Regions from separate parts of the Homo sapiens genome. Here region 1 is linked to region 2. The links come from fine-mapping of genetic effects on gene expression. Tissue or cell type: whole blood. Region 2 holds a variant in brackets; the other region holds the start of a gene. All regions are shown on one strand. Distances are from middle to middle.

Region 1 (8,000 bases), 160 kb before region 2:
GATCTCTGCTCACTGCAAGCTCCACCTCCCGGGTTCACACCATTCTCCTGCCTCAGCCTCCCGAGTAGCTGGGACGACATGCACTGGCCACCACACTCGGCTAATTTTTTGTATTTTTAGTAGAGACGGGGTTTCACCTTGTTAACCAGGATGGTCTTGATCTCCTGACCTCATGATCCACCCATCTTGGCCTCCCAAAGTGCTGGGATTACAGGCGTGAGCCACCGCGCCCAGCACAAGTTTACTTTTTAATAGGCCTGAGGCAAAGGGCTGCAGAATAGCAAGGACTTTTAAAGTGGAGGGTATAGACCAACTGTAGTTGGTGACATTGTGTGCTCAGATTCTACCCAGAGACAAACCGAAATAAAAATGGACTGGTTGTAGGGCCAGGCGCGGTGGCTCACGCCTGTAATCCCAGCACTTTGGGAGGCTGAGTGGGTGTTCACAAGGTCAGGAGTTCGAGACCAGCCTGGCCAACATGGGGAAACCCCATCTCTACTAAAAATACAAAAATTAGCCAGGCATGGTGGTGGGCGCCTGTAATCCCAGCTACTTGGGAGACTGAGGCAGGAGAATTGTTTGAACCCAGGAGGCGGAGGTTGCAGTGAACTGAGATCGTGCCACTGCACTCCAGCCTGGGCGACAGAGTGCGATGGCGTCTCAGAAAAAACAAAAATTGGTTGCAACACCAAGAAGGAAAAAATTGTATTCATGGAAGGGGGAAAATGTTTCCTCATGCAGCCTGTTGACAAGTTTTAGGTTCCTTTCAGTTGAGTTATAGTCTTTTTTTTTTTTTTTTTTTTGAGATGGAGTTCTGCCCTTTTTACCCAGGCTGTAGTGCAATGGCGCGATCTCAGCTCACCTCAATCTCCACCTCCCGGTTTCAAGCGATTCTCCTGCCTCAGCCTCCTGAGTAGCTGGGATTACAGGCATGCGCCACCACCCCGGCTAATTTTGTATTTTTAGTAGAGACGGGCTTTGTCCATGTTGGTCAGGCTGGTCTTGAACTCCCGACCTTACGTGATCCGCCCGCCTCGGCCTCTCAAAGTGTTGGGATTACAGGCGAGCCGCCGCGCCCAGTGAGTTATAGTCTTTTAAAGGCCAACTGGCTAGAGAGTTGGTTTGCACTATTCACGGTCCACTAAATGCTGAACACGAATTTCCTAAGAATTCCAGTCTTATGAAGTGTTATCACTATCAGAAGTAAGGTGCAACTACCTGGTCAGACTCATCCAGCAGTCCAGGACTTGGCTTCCCTGTGTAAGGTGGTGAAAAACACTCCCCAGGTCGGGCGCGGCAGCCACACCTGTAATCCCAGCACTTTGGTAGGCTGAGGCAGGTGCATCACGTGAGGTCAGGAGTTCGAGACTGGCCTGGCCAACATGGTGAAACCCCATCTCTACTAAAAATATAAAAAATTAGCCAGGTGTGCCGAGCGCGGTGGCTCCCGCCTGTAATCCCAGCACTTTGAGAGGCCGAGGCGAGCAGATCACAAGGTCAGAAGATCGAGACCATCCTGGCTAACACAGTGAAACCCCGTCTCTACTAAAAATACAAAAATTAGCCGGGCGTGGTGGTGGGCGCCTGTAGTCCCAGCTACTCGGGAGGCTGAGGCAGGAGAATGGCGTGAACCCTGGAGGCGGAGCTTGCAGTGAGCCGAGATCAGCCACTACACTCTAGCCTGGGCGAAAGTGCGAGACTCCGTCTCAAAGAAAAAAAAAAAAAAAAAAAAATTAGCCAGGTGTGGTGGCATGTGCCTGTAGTCCCAGCTACTCAGGAGGCTGAGGCATGAGAATCACTTGGACCCGGGAGGTGGAGGTTGCAGTGAGCCAAAATTGAGCCACTGCACTCCAGCCTGGGTGACAGAGCAAGACTCTCTCAAAAAAACAAAAAACAAAGCCACTTTCCAACCAAACTTGGAAAACCATCGAATTCAGCTTCCTGCCTGCAGTGAGTGGATAAATGAGCCGGGAGTTGAGATGTGAGCACCCTCCTATGGAGAGTTATCTCAGATTACTCTTGGCTTCCAGAAGTAACATTTAGCCATCAAGGCAAATACACATTTTAAAGTGTTAATTAGCTGGCTGGACTGATTGCACCACTGGAGAATTCCTAAAAGGTGGGGAAGGCTTGTTAGTTTGATTCCTGGGTTTTTGATGAGCTGCAGTGAGAAGCTGAGGACTTTTTTACTTCTTTATTTTACTTTTTTAAGAGATGGTGTCTCACTATGTTGGCCAGGTTGGTCTTGAACTCTTAGGCCTCAAGCAATCCTCCTGCCTCATCAGCCTCCCAGAGTTCTAGGATTACAGGCATGAGCCACTGGGCTTGGTCAGCCTTTTTGCTTCTAAATGATGGATAATAACGTTCATTTAACCTCCATTTTATTTTATTTTTATTTATTTATTTTTCTTGAGACAGAATCTTGCTCTGTTGCCCAGGCTGGAGTGTAGTGGCGTGATCTTAGCTCGCTGCAACCTCTGCCTCCCAGATTCAGGTGATTTGCCTGCCTCAGCCTCCCGAGTAGCTGGGACTACAGGCGTGCGCTACCACGCCCAGCTAGTTTTTCTAATTTTTTATTTTATGTATTTTTTTGAGATGCAGTTTTGCTCTTGTCATCTAGGCTGGAGTGTAGTGGCGAGATTGGCTTACTGCAACCTCCACTTCCCAGGTTCAAGTGATTCTCCAGCCTCAGCCTCCCTAGTAGCTGGGATTACAGGCACCCACCACCATGCCCAGCTAATATTTTTTTTTTGTAGTTTTAGTAGAGACGGGGTTTCACCATGTTGGCCAGGCTGGTCTCGAACTCCTGACCTTGTGATCCGCCTGCCTCGGCCTCCCAAAGTGCTAGGATTACAGGCGTGAGCCACCGCGCCCAGCTGCCTTTTTAATTTTTTTTTAGCAGAGACGGGATTTCACCATGTTGGCCAGGCTGGTCTTGAACTCCTGACCTTAAGTGATCTGCCCTCCTCAGCCTCCCAAAGTGCTGGGATTACAGGCATGAGCCACCATGCCCAGCCAACCCCCATGTCAAAGAACCTACTATGTGCCAGGTGCTTCTGCTAATGTCTAGACCTCAACAACTCTAATGTGTAAATGTCACATTTCGCCTCTGATTATGAAATCTGGGCATGTTTCACAGAGCCAAGTTGCCTTTGCTTATATGTCAATGCCACTTGGGTGATTTCCCATAGCAGGACAACCCAGTGTTGTCCATGGCTCACCAATTTCACTTTTTTCCAGTCCATTATGAAGGAAGTGATTAGTGCAAAGCACAACATGTGGCTTCCTTCATTCAGTAAGAGCACCAGAGCCTGTCTGTTCCAAGTCACTGTCGGTATTTGACCCTTCATCACCTTCCCACCTCCTGGAGGACGCTCCTCCACGAAGTGCTGACACAACCTCCTGTAAACGCAGGATGCCAGGACGGGCTGAATGGCCCGCCATAGACTAGGCAGTGACCAGCACACCTCCCTTGGGCTGAAATAGTGGCGGCTATTTCACCAGGTGTAAATGGCTTTTCTCCCGTGTGGATGGATGGGCTTTTTAGGGTAAAGCCCTAAAAAGTGGCACGGGCTGAACCAGCAAGCTCAGTCTGAGTAAGAGATGGGCCGGAGAGAGGTCTGGTTCATTCATCTGTAATTTGTAATTTATCATAATTTTGGGTGAGGATTTACTTTTCCACAAGTATACGTTCTTTTTTTTTTTTTTTTTTTTTTTTTGAGATGGAGTCTCGCTCTGTCACCCAGGTTGGAGGGCAGTGGCAGGATCTCGGCTCACTGCAACCTCCGCCTACTGGGTACAAGTGATTCTCCCACCTCAGCCTCCTGAGTAGCTGGGATTACAGGCGCCCGCCACCACGACCGGCTAATTTTTGTATTTTTAGTAGAGACGGGGGTTTCACCATGTTGGCCAGGCTGGTCTCGAACTCCTGACCTCGTGATCCGTCCACCTCTGCCTCCCAAACTGCTGGGATTACAGGCGTGAGCCACCGCACCTGGCCTAGTATACATTCTTGTAGTGACTAATATCTAGTCTGGGCCAACCACTCCGAGGAGAGAGACAATTTTGGATTAGCCCACATTACACCAACAACGTGCGAGACAAAGAGAGACTTGAGGGGCTTGGTCGAGGAGGCCCAGCGCGTTAGAGGCGGGAGCCAGGTTGTAGAGGGGCTCAAAGTTAGAGGAGGCGGCCAGCTCCACCGGCTGCACCCGGCTGGGCGACCCGGCAACCTTCAGGGGGCGCTGTTTCCCCCATCCCTGTCCCTAACTGGCCGGCTCCCGCGGGCGCGCGGCGGGGAAGGCCAGAGGACCTGGGCGCGGGCGATGTGCCTCCTGAGCGTCCAAACCGGGGGTGAGGCGCGGTCACGCCCAGCGGGAACCGCAGGCGCCGAAGCCCGGGTACTGGGCCCAGAATCCCGCGGAATTTTGGATCCGAGGGAGGCGCTGGGGCGCGGGACCTCGGGCGTGGGGTCCCGGGCGCTGGATCGGCGCGGACGGGAGGCGGCGCTGGTCCCGCGGGCCAGCGGGTCTCGGGAGGGGGCGCCCGATCCCGCGTCTCCGGCGCCGCTTCCCGGGAAGTTTCAAGTTTGAAAGTCCTGGCGGAGGGTCTGCGGCTTCCGGGACCGGAGTGGCTGAGAGAAGGGCCCCAAGCGGCCGGAGCGGCGCCATGGAGGAGGGGGCGCCGCGGCAGGTGAACGGCGTGGGAGGGGCGCGCGGGCCCGGGGGGTGCGAGAAAGCCTCTGTCATCGCCCCGGAGCCCCGAACCGCGGCCGCTTCCCCCGATCCTCCCCTCACCCGCGCCCCTTCCCTGCCCCTGCCCTGGCCCCGGCCCCGCGACGCCCTCGCAGAGCAGACCTGATCTCCGGGTTCGGTGGTTCCTGGACCTTGCACAGTCTCCAAATCAGTCCGCGGCTGACCCGGAGACTGAACCCCAACCAGCCCGTGAGCGAGGACGGCTGAGTCCGCAGTGTGCGCCACCAGGGTGGTCCCCAGAGTGTCCTTAAGTCGGTTCTCCTCGGTGGGGCTCCAAGGCCGACGGGAATTAGCCGGGATAGAAAGGCGGGGCACAGGGGCCTGGGGGGGTTAGAATGTGCGCGCAGCGGGGGGCGCAGTCTGTGCGCGCTTGGCAGTGGCAGGAGTCCTTCCCGGAGCACAGGAGGCACGAGGGGAGCGTAGATGAGAGGGGAGCGGCCTCCCCCGCCCCAGGGCGGGAACCTTTGGGTACATAGCGGGTTCTAGAATGCGGAGGGGGCTGGGTTTCCTGCCAGAGCTGGCAGTAGGTGCGCGTGGGCCCGGAGGACCGAGGCCATGTCTATCTGCTCCTGAGGAGGGAGAGGTGGTGTCCTGTTCCGGAGCGAGTGGTTGGGAGGGGGGCATTTGCGGACAGGAGTGGGTCCCCGCAAAGAGCGGAAAGGAGGTGGTGTGTGTGTCCATGTTGGAGTTCCAACCCAGGGCAGACGGGACCATGGGGGTGTTGCGGGGTGCGTGTAGACTCCTTGAGCGCCCAAGCCAGTCGTTTAGGCCGCCTTCAGGGCTGGGGCTCGGTCTGCCCCCTCCCACCCCCTTCCTCTGGAGGTCCCTCCGCCTGTTCCAGACGTAGCTTGTACACATTTTCCGATTTCCTGCGGGGCTCCGCCCTGCAGCGGCAGCTGGGTGACTCAGGACCCCGGTGGCCGGGCCCCCAGCTCCATGGGACCTTTGTTTGCTCCGGTCTTTGGCTCTGGCCCTGTGGCCTAGGGCGGTCAGAGGATTTCCTGAGCCTCGCCCTTGCCCTCTGACAGCTGGGCCAGCAGGCCCCGCTGAGGTCTGGGGTGGGGGGGTCCCTGAGTCTGGGGTTGCGGCCCCTTCCACTGGGCTCAGGAGAAGATGGAACACAGAGAGGTAAGATGGGGTTCCTGCAACAGCCCGTGTTGCGGGGCATCATGGGTTACCCGGCCTGAGGTCACCTTTGGCACCGGTTGGTTTGAAATGCTGGCGGCTGGAAAGGAGGTGTTCCTGTTCCTGGCTCCAACCTGGGTGAAGCCGTGAGAGAGCCTTCTACTTCCTCCCGGGAGCTGAGCAGGGAGTGGGCACCCGGAGACCTCCCCAGTTCCTCTCTGTGCCTCTGCTTTGCTACCTGTGGCATTGGGACATCAGGGGAACAAGCCCTGGCTCCCAGGCCCCTGGCTGCCTTCTCATGTGGCTTCGTGTGAACCCCTATTCGGCGTAGCTTTTGTGGCTCCTGGACTCTACTTTGGGTCCCAGATGTAGAGAGAGCAGCCTGATTACCCAGGGCTGCCAGGGACAGCTGGGGCCCGAGAGATGGTGGCCCCTCCTCTGTGTCTTGACTGTGGGCAAGTTACTTCACCTCTCTGGGCCTCAGTTTCCTCACTAGAAAATAGGGGTAATAGTACAGGCGTGGTGGCTCACACCTGTAATCCCAGCACTTTGGGAGGCCAAGGCAGGTGGATCACCTGAGGTCAGGATTCAAGACCAGCCTGACGAACATGGAGAAACCCCGTCCCTACTAAAAATACAAAATTAGCCGGGCTTAGTGGCGTGTGCCTGTAATCCCAGCTACTCAGGAGGCTGGGGCAGGAGAATCGCTTGAACCCGGGAGGCAGAGGTTGTGGTGAACCGAGATCGTGCCATGGCACTCCAGCCTGGGCAACAAGAGCAAAACTGTCTCAAAAAAAAAAAAAAGAAAAAGAAAAAGAAAAAAGAAAATGGGGGTAATGACCACCGCTACCGGGTGGGGTGGCTGGGAGGAGTGATGTGGTAATATATGCAAAGCACTTAGAATAGAACCTGGCACCCATTTACCGTGTGAACTGTCCCCCCCGCCACATCCTTCTCTAACGGGCGGAGGACAGGAGCCTGGCCTAGATGAGTGGCCTCGGAGTTTCCATCTGGCTCAGGCCTGAGCTCTAAGGGGAGAGAGGCTTCCAAAACCCTGTGCGAGTCAGTCCTGGGTGCCGTCCCTTCCTTCGCCTCCATCTGCAGTGAGCAAAGGCTGCTGGTGGCCGCTGCACCCCATGGCTGTTCTCCACCCTCTGCTTTCCACCGGCTCTGCAGCCTGGGCCGAGCCAGTGGCCCCCAGAGGATGAGAAGGAGGTGATCCGCCGGGCCATCCAGAAAGAGCTGAAGATCAAGGAGGGGGTGGAGAACCTGCGGCGCGTGGCCACAGACCGCCGCCACTTGGGCCATGTGCAGCAGCTGCTGCGGTCCTCCAACCGCCGCCTGGAGCAGCTGCATGGCGAGCTGCGGGAGCTGCACGCCCGAATCCTGCTGCCCGGCCCTGGGCCTGGCCCAGCTGGTGAGTGAGGAGCTGAGACCCCCTCAGGACAGAAGGCTCTAGGCCCATCTGGCCCCTGGCCTTGGCCCTGGCCACTGTGGCGAGACCACCTCATTTCCTGCCTATAGATCAGTAGGGGAAGGAGGAAAGGCCACAGTGGGGGTCTCGGCTCTGGGTGAGGGACTCCTGTGCTCGATACCCCCGTGCACAGAGCCTGTGGCCTCAGGACCCCGGCCGTGGGCAGAGCAGCTCAGGGCTCGGCACCTAGAGGCTCTCCGGAGGCAGCTGCATGTGGAGCTGAAGGTGAAGCAGGGGGCTGAGAACATGACCCACACGTGCGCCAGTGGCACCCCCAAGGTAAGGCCCCACAGTCTGATGGCAGGAGCACCCTGGCCCCTGGTCTGACAGGGAAATGCACCTCAGCCATTGGGCTCATAAGGAGACACCATTCCAGCCTGCAGCCTGATGGGGAAAATACAGCCCCAAACCCCAGCTGGGTGAGGAAGGCATGGCTGTAGTCTCTAGTGTGACAGAGAAGGCCTTGCCCTGGTCTAATGGGATCCTAGCCCAGCCCCAGTCCCAACTCCCAGCATGATGTCCAGAACTGGGCCTCAGTCCTTGTCTGACAAGAAGACTTGGCTGTGGCCCTGATATGATGACGGAGGCAGGACCTTAGCCTTGATCTAATGGGGGAGGCTTAGCTTAGCCCCTGCCCTGATCTGATG
Region 2 (8,252 bases):
CCAGATAAAATCATTGTTCCTTTAAACAAGGAACAGGTTAGACAAGCTTTTATCAATTCTGCTGCATGCCAGATTGGTCTTGCTGATTTTGTGGGAATTATTGACAATCATTACCCAAAAACAAAAATCTTCCAGTTCTTAAAATTGATTACTTGGATTTTACCTAAAATTACCAGATATAAACCTTTAGAAAATGCTCTGATGGCGTTTACTGATTGTTCCAGCAATGGAAAAGTGGCTTAAACTGGGCCAAAAGAACAAGTCATTGAAACTCAATATCACTCAGCTCAAAGAGCAGAGTTGGTTGCTGTCATTTCAGTGTTACAAGGTTTTAATCAGCCTATTAACATTGTTTCAGATTCTGCATATGTAGTACAGGCTACAAAGGATGTTGAGACAGCCCTAATCAAATATAGTATGGATGATCAGTTAAATCAGCTGTTTAATTCGTTACAACAAACTGTAAGAAAAAGAAATTTCCCATTTTATATTACTCATATTCGAACACATACTAATTTACCAGGGCCTTTAACTAAGGCAAATGAACAAGCTGACTTGCTAGTATCATCTGCATTCATAAAAGCATAAAAACTTCGTGCCTTGACTCATGTAAATGCATCAGGACTAAAAAATAAATTTGATATCATATGAAAACAGGCAAAAAATGTTGTACAACATTGTACTCAGTGTCAAGTCCTACATGTGCCCACTCAGGAGGCAGGAGTTAATCCCAGAGGTTTATGTCCCAATGCATTATGGCAAATGGATGTCACACATGTACCTTCATTTGGAAAATTGTCATTTGTCCATGTGACAGTTGATACTTATTCACATTTCATATGGGCAACCTGCCAGACAGGAGAAAATACTTCCCATGTTAAAAGACATTTATTATCTTGTTTTGCTGTCATGGGAGTTCCATAAAAAATTAAAACAGATAATGGGCCAGGATACTGTAGTAAAGCATTTCAAAAATTCTTAAATCAGTGGAAAATTACACACACAACAGAAATCCCTTATAATTCCCAAGGACAGGCCATAATTGAAAGAAGTAATAGAACACTCAAAGCTCAATTGGTTAAACAAAAAAAGGAAAAGGACAGTAAGGAATATAACACTCCCCAGATGCAACTTAATCTAGCACTCTATACTTTAAATTTTTTTAACATTTATAGAAATCAGACCGCTACTTCTGCAGAACAACATTTTACTGGTAAAAAGAACAGCCCACATGAGGAAAAACTGATTTGGTAAAAAGACAACAAAAATAAAACATAAAAAATAGAGAAGGTGATAACGTGGGGGAGAGGTTTTGCTCGTGTTTCACCAGGAGAAAATCAGCTTCCAGTTTGGGTACCTACAACTTACAGAAAAAGTTGCCATCCACCAAAAAAGCGAAGCCGCCGACCTGGGCCCAGCTAAAGAAGCTGACACAGTTAGCTGAAAAAAGCCTAAAGTACACAAGGGTAACACAAACTCCAGAGAATATGCTGCTTGCAGCTTTAATGATTGTATCAATGGTGGTAAGTCTCACTATGTCTGCAGGAGCAGCTGCAGCTAATTATACTTACTGGGCCTATGTGCCTTTCCCGCCCTTAATTCAGGCAGTCACTTGGATGGATAATATTCTATTGAAGTATGTGTTAATATTAGTGCATGGGTACCAGGACCCACAGATGACCGCGGCCCTGCCCAACCTGAAGAAGAAGGAATGATGATAAACATTTCCACTGGGTATCATTATCCTCCTATTTGCCTGGGGAAAGCACCAGGATGCTTAATGCCTACAACCCAAAATTGGTTGGTAGAAGTATCTACTGTCAGTGCCACCAATAAATTTACTTATCATATGGTAAGTGGAATGTCACTTGGGTCACAAATGAATAATTTACAGGACTCTTCTTATCAAAGATCATTAAAATTTAGGCCTAAGGGGACCTTGCCTCAAGGAAATTCCCAAAGAATCAAAAGACCCAGAAGTCTTAGTTTGGGAAAAATATGTGGCTGATACTGTGGTGGTATTACAAAACAATAAATTTGGAACTATTATAGACTGGGCCCCTCAAAACCAATTATATTATGGTTGTATGGGCCAGACTCACTCATGTTCACAGACCCCATCTGTCTGGCCCACTAATCCGGCCTATGATAGTGATTTAACTGAAAGGCTAGACCAGGTTTATAGAAGGCTAGAATCACCCTATCCATGGAAATGGGGTGAAAAGGGGATTTCATCACCTCAACCAAAGTTAGTTAGTCCTGTTACTGCTCCTGAACATCCAGCATTATGAAAGCTTACTGTGGCCTCGCACCACATTAGAATTTGGTCTGGAAATCAAGTTATCGGAACAAGAAATCATAAGCCACATTATACTATTAACCTAAATTCCAATCCGACAATTCCTTTGCAAAGTTGTGTAAAACCCTCTTATATGCTAGTTGTAGGAAACATAGTTATTAAACCAGATTCCCAAACTATAACCTGTGAAAATTGTAGATTGTTTACTTGCATTGATTCAACTTTTGATTGGCAGCACCATATTCTGCCAGTGAGGGCAAGAGAGGGTGTGTGGATCCCTGTGTCCATGGACCGACCGTGGGAGGCTTCCCCATCCATCCATATTTTAACAGAAGTATTAAAAGGAGTTCTAACTAGATCCAAAAGATTCATTTTTTACTTTAATTGCAGTGATTATGGGTCTTATTGCAGTCACAGCTACTGCTGCGGCTGCTGGAATTGCTTTACACTCCTCTGTTCAAACTACAAAATATATAAATAATTGGCAAAAGAACTCCTCAAAATTGTGGAATTCTCAGACTCAAATAGACCAAAAATTGGCAAACCAAATTAATGATCGTAGACAAACTGTCATTTGAATGAGAGATAGGCTCATGAGCTTAGAATATCTTTTTCAGTTACAGTGTGACTGGAATATGTCAGATTTTTGTATTACACCTCGAGCCTATAATGAATCTGAACATCACTGGGACATGGTTAGACGCCATCTACAAGGAAGAGAAGATAACCTTACTTTAGATATTTTAAAATTAAAATAACAAATTTTTGAGGCATCAAAAGCCCAGTTCAATCTGGTGCCAGAAACTGAGGCAATGGTGAAAGCTGCTGATGGCCTCACAAATCTTAACCCCATCACTTGGGTTAAAACCACTGGAAGTTCCACTATTGCAAATTTTGTATTAATCCTTGTATGTCTGTTCTCTGTTGCTGGTCTACAGGTGTATCCAGCAGCTCCAGAGAGACAGCAACCAGCGAAAACAGGCCATAATGACTATGGCGGTTTTGTCAAAAAGAAAAGGGGGATATGTACGGCAAAGAAAGAGAGATCAGACTGTTACTGTGTCTATGTAGAAAGGGAAGACATAAGAAATTCCATTTTGACCTGTACCTTGAACAATTGCTTTGCTGAGATGTTGTTAATTTGTAACTTTGCCCCAGCCACTTTGCCCCAACTTTGAGCTCACAAAAACATGTGTTGTCTGGAATCAAGGTTTAAGGGATCTAGGGCTGTGCAGGATATGCCTTGTTAACAAAATGTTTACAAGCAGTATGCTTGGTAAAAGTCATCGCCATTCTCTAATCTCAATAAACCAGGGGCACAACGCACTGCGGAAAGCCGCACGGACCTCTGCCTTGGAAAGCCACGTATTGTCCAAGGTTTCTCCCCATGTGATAATCTGAAATATGGCCTTGTGGGATGAGAAAGACCTGACTGTCCCCCAGCCCAACACCCGTAAAGGGTCTGTGCTGAGGTAGATTAGTAAAAGAGGAAAGCCTCTTGAAGTTGAAATAGAGGAAGGCCACTGTCTCCTGCCTGCCCCTGGGAACTGAATGTCTCGGTATAAAACCTGATTATACATTTGTTCAATTCTGAGATAGGAGAAAAACCGCCCTATGGCGGGAGGCGAGACATGTTGGCAGCAATGCTGCCTTGTTATTCTTTACTCCACTGAGATGTTTGGGCGGGGAGAAACATAAATCCGGCCTACGTGCACATGCAGGC[A/T]TAGTACCTCCCCTTGAACTTAATTATGACATAGATTCTTTTGCTCACATGTTTTTTTGCTGACCTTCTCCTTATTATCACCCTGCTCTCCTACTGCATTCCTCTTGCTGAGATAATAAAAATAATAATCAATAAAAAGTGAGGAAACTCAGAAACCGATGCTGGTGCAGGTCCTTGATATGCTGCTTGCCAGTCTCCTGGGCCCACTGTTGTCTCTATACTTCATCTCTGTGTCTTACTTCTTTTCTCAGTCTCTCGTCCCACCTGATGAGATACCCACAGGTGTGGAGGGACAGGCCACCGCTTCACTCAGCTTCCCAAAGTGCTGAAATTACATGCGTGAGCCATGTGCCCTGCCCCATACACAAAAATTAATTCAAAGTGAATCACATAACTAAATGTATGGGCTGGGGACGGTGTCTCACGCCTGTAATCCCAGCACTTTGGGAGGCCAGGGCAGGCGGATCATAAGGTCAGGAGATCAAGACCATCCTGGCTAACACAGTGAAACCCCGTCTCTACTAAAAATACAAAAAATTAGCTGGGCGTGGTGGTGGGCACCTGCAGTCCCAGCTGCTCTGGAGGCTGAGGCAGGAGAATGGCGTGAACCCGGGAGGCGGAGCTTGCAGTGAGCAGAGATCACGCCACTGCACTCCAGCCTGGGCGACACAGCGAGACTCCGTCTCAAAACAAACAAACAAACAAAAAACAAAACTAAATGTATGAACTAAAACAAGAAAACTAGAAGAAAACATAGGAATAAATCTCTGTGACCTTGGGGTTCTAGACATAACATCCAAAGCATACACAACAAAAGAAAAAATAAACTGGACCTCATCAAAATTAAGAACTTTTGTGCTTCAAGGATACCCATTAAGAAAATGAAAAGACAGCCCATGGAATGGAAGGAAATATCTGCAAATCATAAATCTGAATGTTTCCAAAAAAGATACACAAACAGCCAAGGCTGGGCACGGTGGCTCACGTCTGTAATCCCAGCACTTTGGGAGGCTGAGGTGGGTGGGTCACCTGAGGTCAGGAGTTTGAGACCAGCCTGGCCAACACGACAAAACCCCATCTCTACCAAAAATACAAAAATTAGCTGGGCGAAGTCACATGCACCTGTAGTCCCAGCTACTTAGGAGGCTGAGGTACGAGAATCGCTTGAGCTCAGGAGGCAGAGGTTGCAATGAGCCAAAATTGCTCCACTGCACTCCAGCCTGGGCAACAGAGTGAGACCATGTATAAAAAAAAAAAAAAAAAAAAGCCCGGGCATGGTGGCTCATACCTGTAATCACAGCACTTTGGGAGGCCAAGGCGGGCAGATCACCTAAGGTCAGGAGTCTGAGACCAGCCTGACCAATATGATGAAACCCCATCTCTACTAAAACTACAAAAATTAGCCAGGCGTGATGGCATGCACCTGTAATCCCAGCTACTTGGAAGGCTGAGACTGGAGAATCACTTGAATCCGAGAGTCGGAGGTTGCAGTGAGCCACTGCACCATTGCACTCCAGCCTGGGCAACAAAAGTGAAATTCCATCTCAAAAAACAAAAAAAGAAAAAGAATGTTTTAGGCCAGGCCCGGTGGCTCACGCTTATAATTCCAGCACTTCGGGAGGCTGAGGTGGGCAGATCACTTGAGGTCAGGAGTTTGAGACCAGACTGGCCAACACGGTGAAATCCTGTCTGTACTAACAACACAAAAATTAGCTGGACATGGTGGCTCATACCTGTAATCCCAGCTACTCGGGAGGCTGAGGCAAGGGAATTGCTTGGAGGCTAAAGTGAGCTGAGATTGTGCGTTGCACTCCAGCCTGGGTGACAGAACAAGACTCCATCTCAAAAAAAAAAAAAAAGCAAAGAAAAGAAAAGAAAGAAAAAGAGTATTTTGGAGGAATGCTCTGGCATACTTAAAAATAGTTACCCTTGGCCAGGCACGGTGACTCACGCCTGTAATCCCAGCATTTTGGGAGGCCAAGGCAGGCGGATCACGAGGTCAGGAGATCGAGACCATCCTGGCTAACACGGCGAAACCCTGTCTCTACTAAAAATACAGAAATTAGCCAGGTGTGGTGGTGGGCACCTGTAGTCCCAGCTACTCGGGAGGCTGAGGCAGGAGAATGTCGTGAACCCAGGAGGCTGAACCTGCAGTGAGCTGAGATCGCGCCACTGCACTCCAGCCTGGGCAACAGAGGGAGACTCCGTCTCAACAACAAAAAAAAAAGTTACTCTCAGCTGGGTGCAGTGGCTCCTGCCTGTAATCCCAGCACTTTGGGAGGCTGAGGTGGGTGGATCACCTGAGGTCAGGAGTTTGAGACCAGCCTGGTCAACATGGTGAAACCCCATCTCTACTAAAAATACAAAAATTAGCTGGGTGTGGTGGCGCATGCCTGTAATCTCCCAGCTACTCAGGAGGCTGAGACAGGAGAATTGCTTGAACCCAGGAGGTGGAGGTTGCAGTGAGCCGAGATCGTGCTGGTGAGCCACCTTGCCCAGCCATTTTTTTTTTTTTTTGAGACAGAATCTCGCTCTGTTGCCCAGGCTGGAGCGCAGTGGCGCGATCTCGGCTCACTGCAAGCTCTGCCTCCCAGGTTCACACCATTCTCCTGCCTCAGCCTCCTAAGTAGCTGGGACTACAGGTGCCCGCCATCACACCCAGCTAATTTTTTGTATTTTTAGTAGAGACAGGGTTTCACCGTGTTAGCCAGGATGATCTCGATCTCCTGACCTCGTGACCCACCCGCCTCGGCCTCCCAAAGTGCATGAGAGGGGATTTATAGGGAAATTGACTCACGCAATTAATGGAGGCTGAGAAGTCCCCTGAGAGACTATTTGCAAGAGGTGCCAGTAGCGTGGCTCAGTCCAAGTCTGCAAGCCTCAGAACCAGGGACGCCACTGGGATAATTCTCAGTCCAAGGCTGAAGAGCCTAGAGTTTTGATATCCAAAGGGCAGGAGAAGGAGAATCTTCCAGCTCCAGGAGAGACAGAGACAGAAAGAGGAAAATTTTCTCCTCTTTTGTTTTTATTCAAGCCGTGAACCAATTGCATACTGCCACCCACATTGAGAGCGGATCTTCCCCACTCAGTCCACTGACTCCCACGCCAATCTCCTCTGGAAACACCCTCACAGACACACCCAGAAGTCATGTTTCACCATTCTCTAGGTATTCCTTACTCCAGTCCAGCTGCCACCTAACATTAACCAGCAGCACACATCCACGCTGCCAGACATTCGTCAGTTGCAGTTCAGGTTTTCCCACCCAGGTGCTGATTCCAGGGAAGGTTTCTGCTCTGGCAAATCATGATTCTCTGTATCTACCTTTCTGCCTCTCCAGTTTGGGGGCAGCAGGTTACCCTGTGACCTAATTTTCTGATGAACTGAAAAAGAGCCGCTGGTTTTTCAGTTTGTTCAGCCTTTTTTTTTTTTTTTTGAAACGGAGTCTTGCTTTGTCGCCCAGGGTGGAGTGCAGTTGCGCAATCTCGGCTCACTGCAAGCTCCGCCTCCTGGGTTCAAGCGATTCTCCTGCCTCAGCCTAAGTAACTGGGATTACAGTCGCATTCCACCATGCCTGGCTAATTTTTGTATTTTTAGTAGAGATGGGGTTTCACTATGTTGGTCAGACTGGTCTCGAACTCCTGACCTTAGGTGATCTGCCCACCTCGGCCTCCCAAAGTGCTGGGATTACAGTTGTGAGCCACTGCCTCCGGCCCACACGCATTTATTAAGTTTACCATCTTATATGGGCATGGTTTGTGGTTCCCCAAAACAAGCACAATAGTAATATCAAAGATCACTGATCACAGATCACCGTGTCAGACATAATAATAATGATAAAGTTTGAACTATTGTGGGAATTACACACAGACCCTAAGGGAACACATTCTGTTGGAACAATGGGAACAATAGACTTGCTTGGTGCAAGGTTCTCACAAAGCTTCAATTTGCAAAGACCGTGATATCTGCCAAACGCAATACAATGAAGTGTGGCTAGTTTGTTACAACAGCCTTAGGAATCAAATCCAAGGTGATGGGGTTGAGCTGTGTCCCCACCCAAATCTCATCTTGAATTGCAGTTCTCATAATTCCCACGTGTCCTGGGAGGGACCCAGTGGGAGGTAATTGAATCATGGGGGCAGTTACCCCCATGCTGCTGTGCTGGCGATAATGAGTGAGTTCTCATGAGAGCTGATGGTTTTATAAAGAGCTTTTCCCCCTTTGCTCAGCAG

Evidence for each region. PIP is the estimated chance that this variant, and not a neighbour inherited with it, causes the effect.
Region 1: it holds the start of PKN3, and the variant in region 2 is fine-mapped to the expression of PKN3 in whole blood (INTERVAL, PIP above 0.99).

The regions. Positions count from the first base shown.
Region 1 is chr9:128,698,248-128,706,247 of GRCh38, forward strand. It overlaps PKN3 (protein kinase N3), which reads left to right and starts at 4,256. Exons shown (of 22, transcript NM_013355.5): 1 at 4,256-4,692; 2 at 7,056-7,296; 3 at 7,487-7,632. The coding sequence starts at 4,669. RefSeq lists a silencer at 4,149-4,718 and an enhancer at 4,533-5,072.
Region 2 is chr9:128,853,128-128,861,379 of GRCh38, forward strand. All of the region lies in intron 1 of KYAT1-SPOUT1 (KYAT1-SPOUT1 readthrough), which reads right to left. The region is part of intron 1 of KYAT1 (kynurenine aminotransferase 1); the gene reads right to left. Among named protein-coding and RNA genes, the nearest start is that of KYAT1, 25 kb to the right of the region's middle. The variant A/T (reference allele first, on the strand shown) is at 4,023.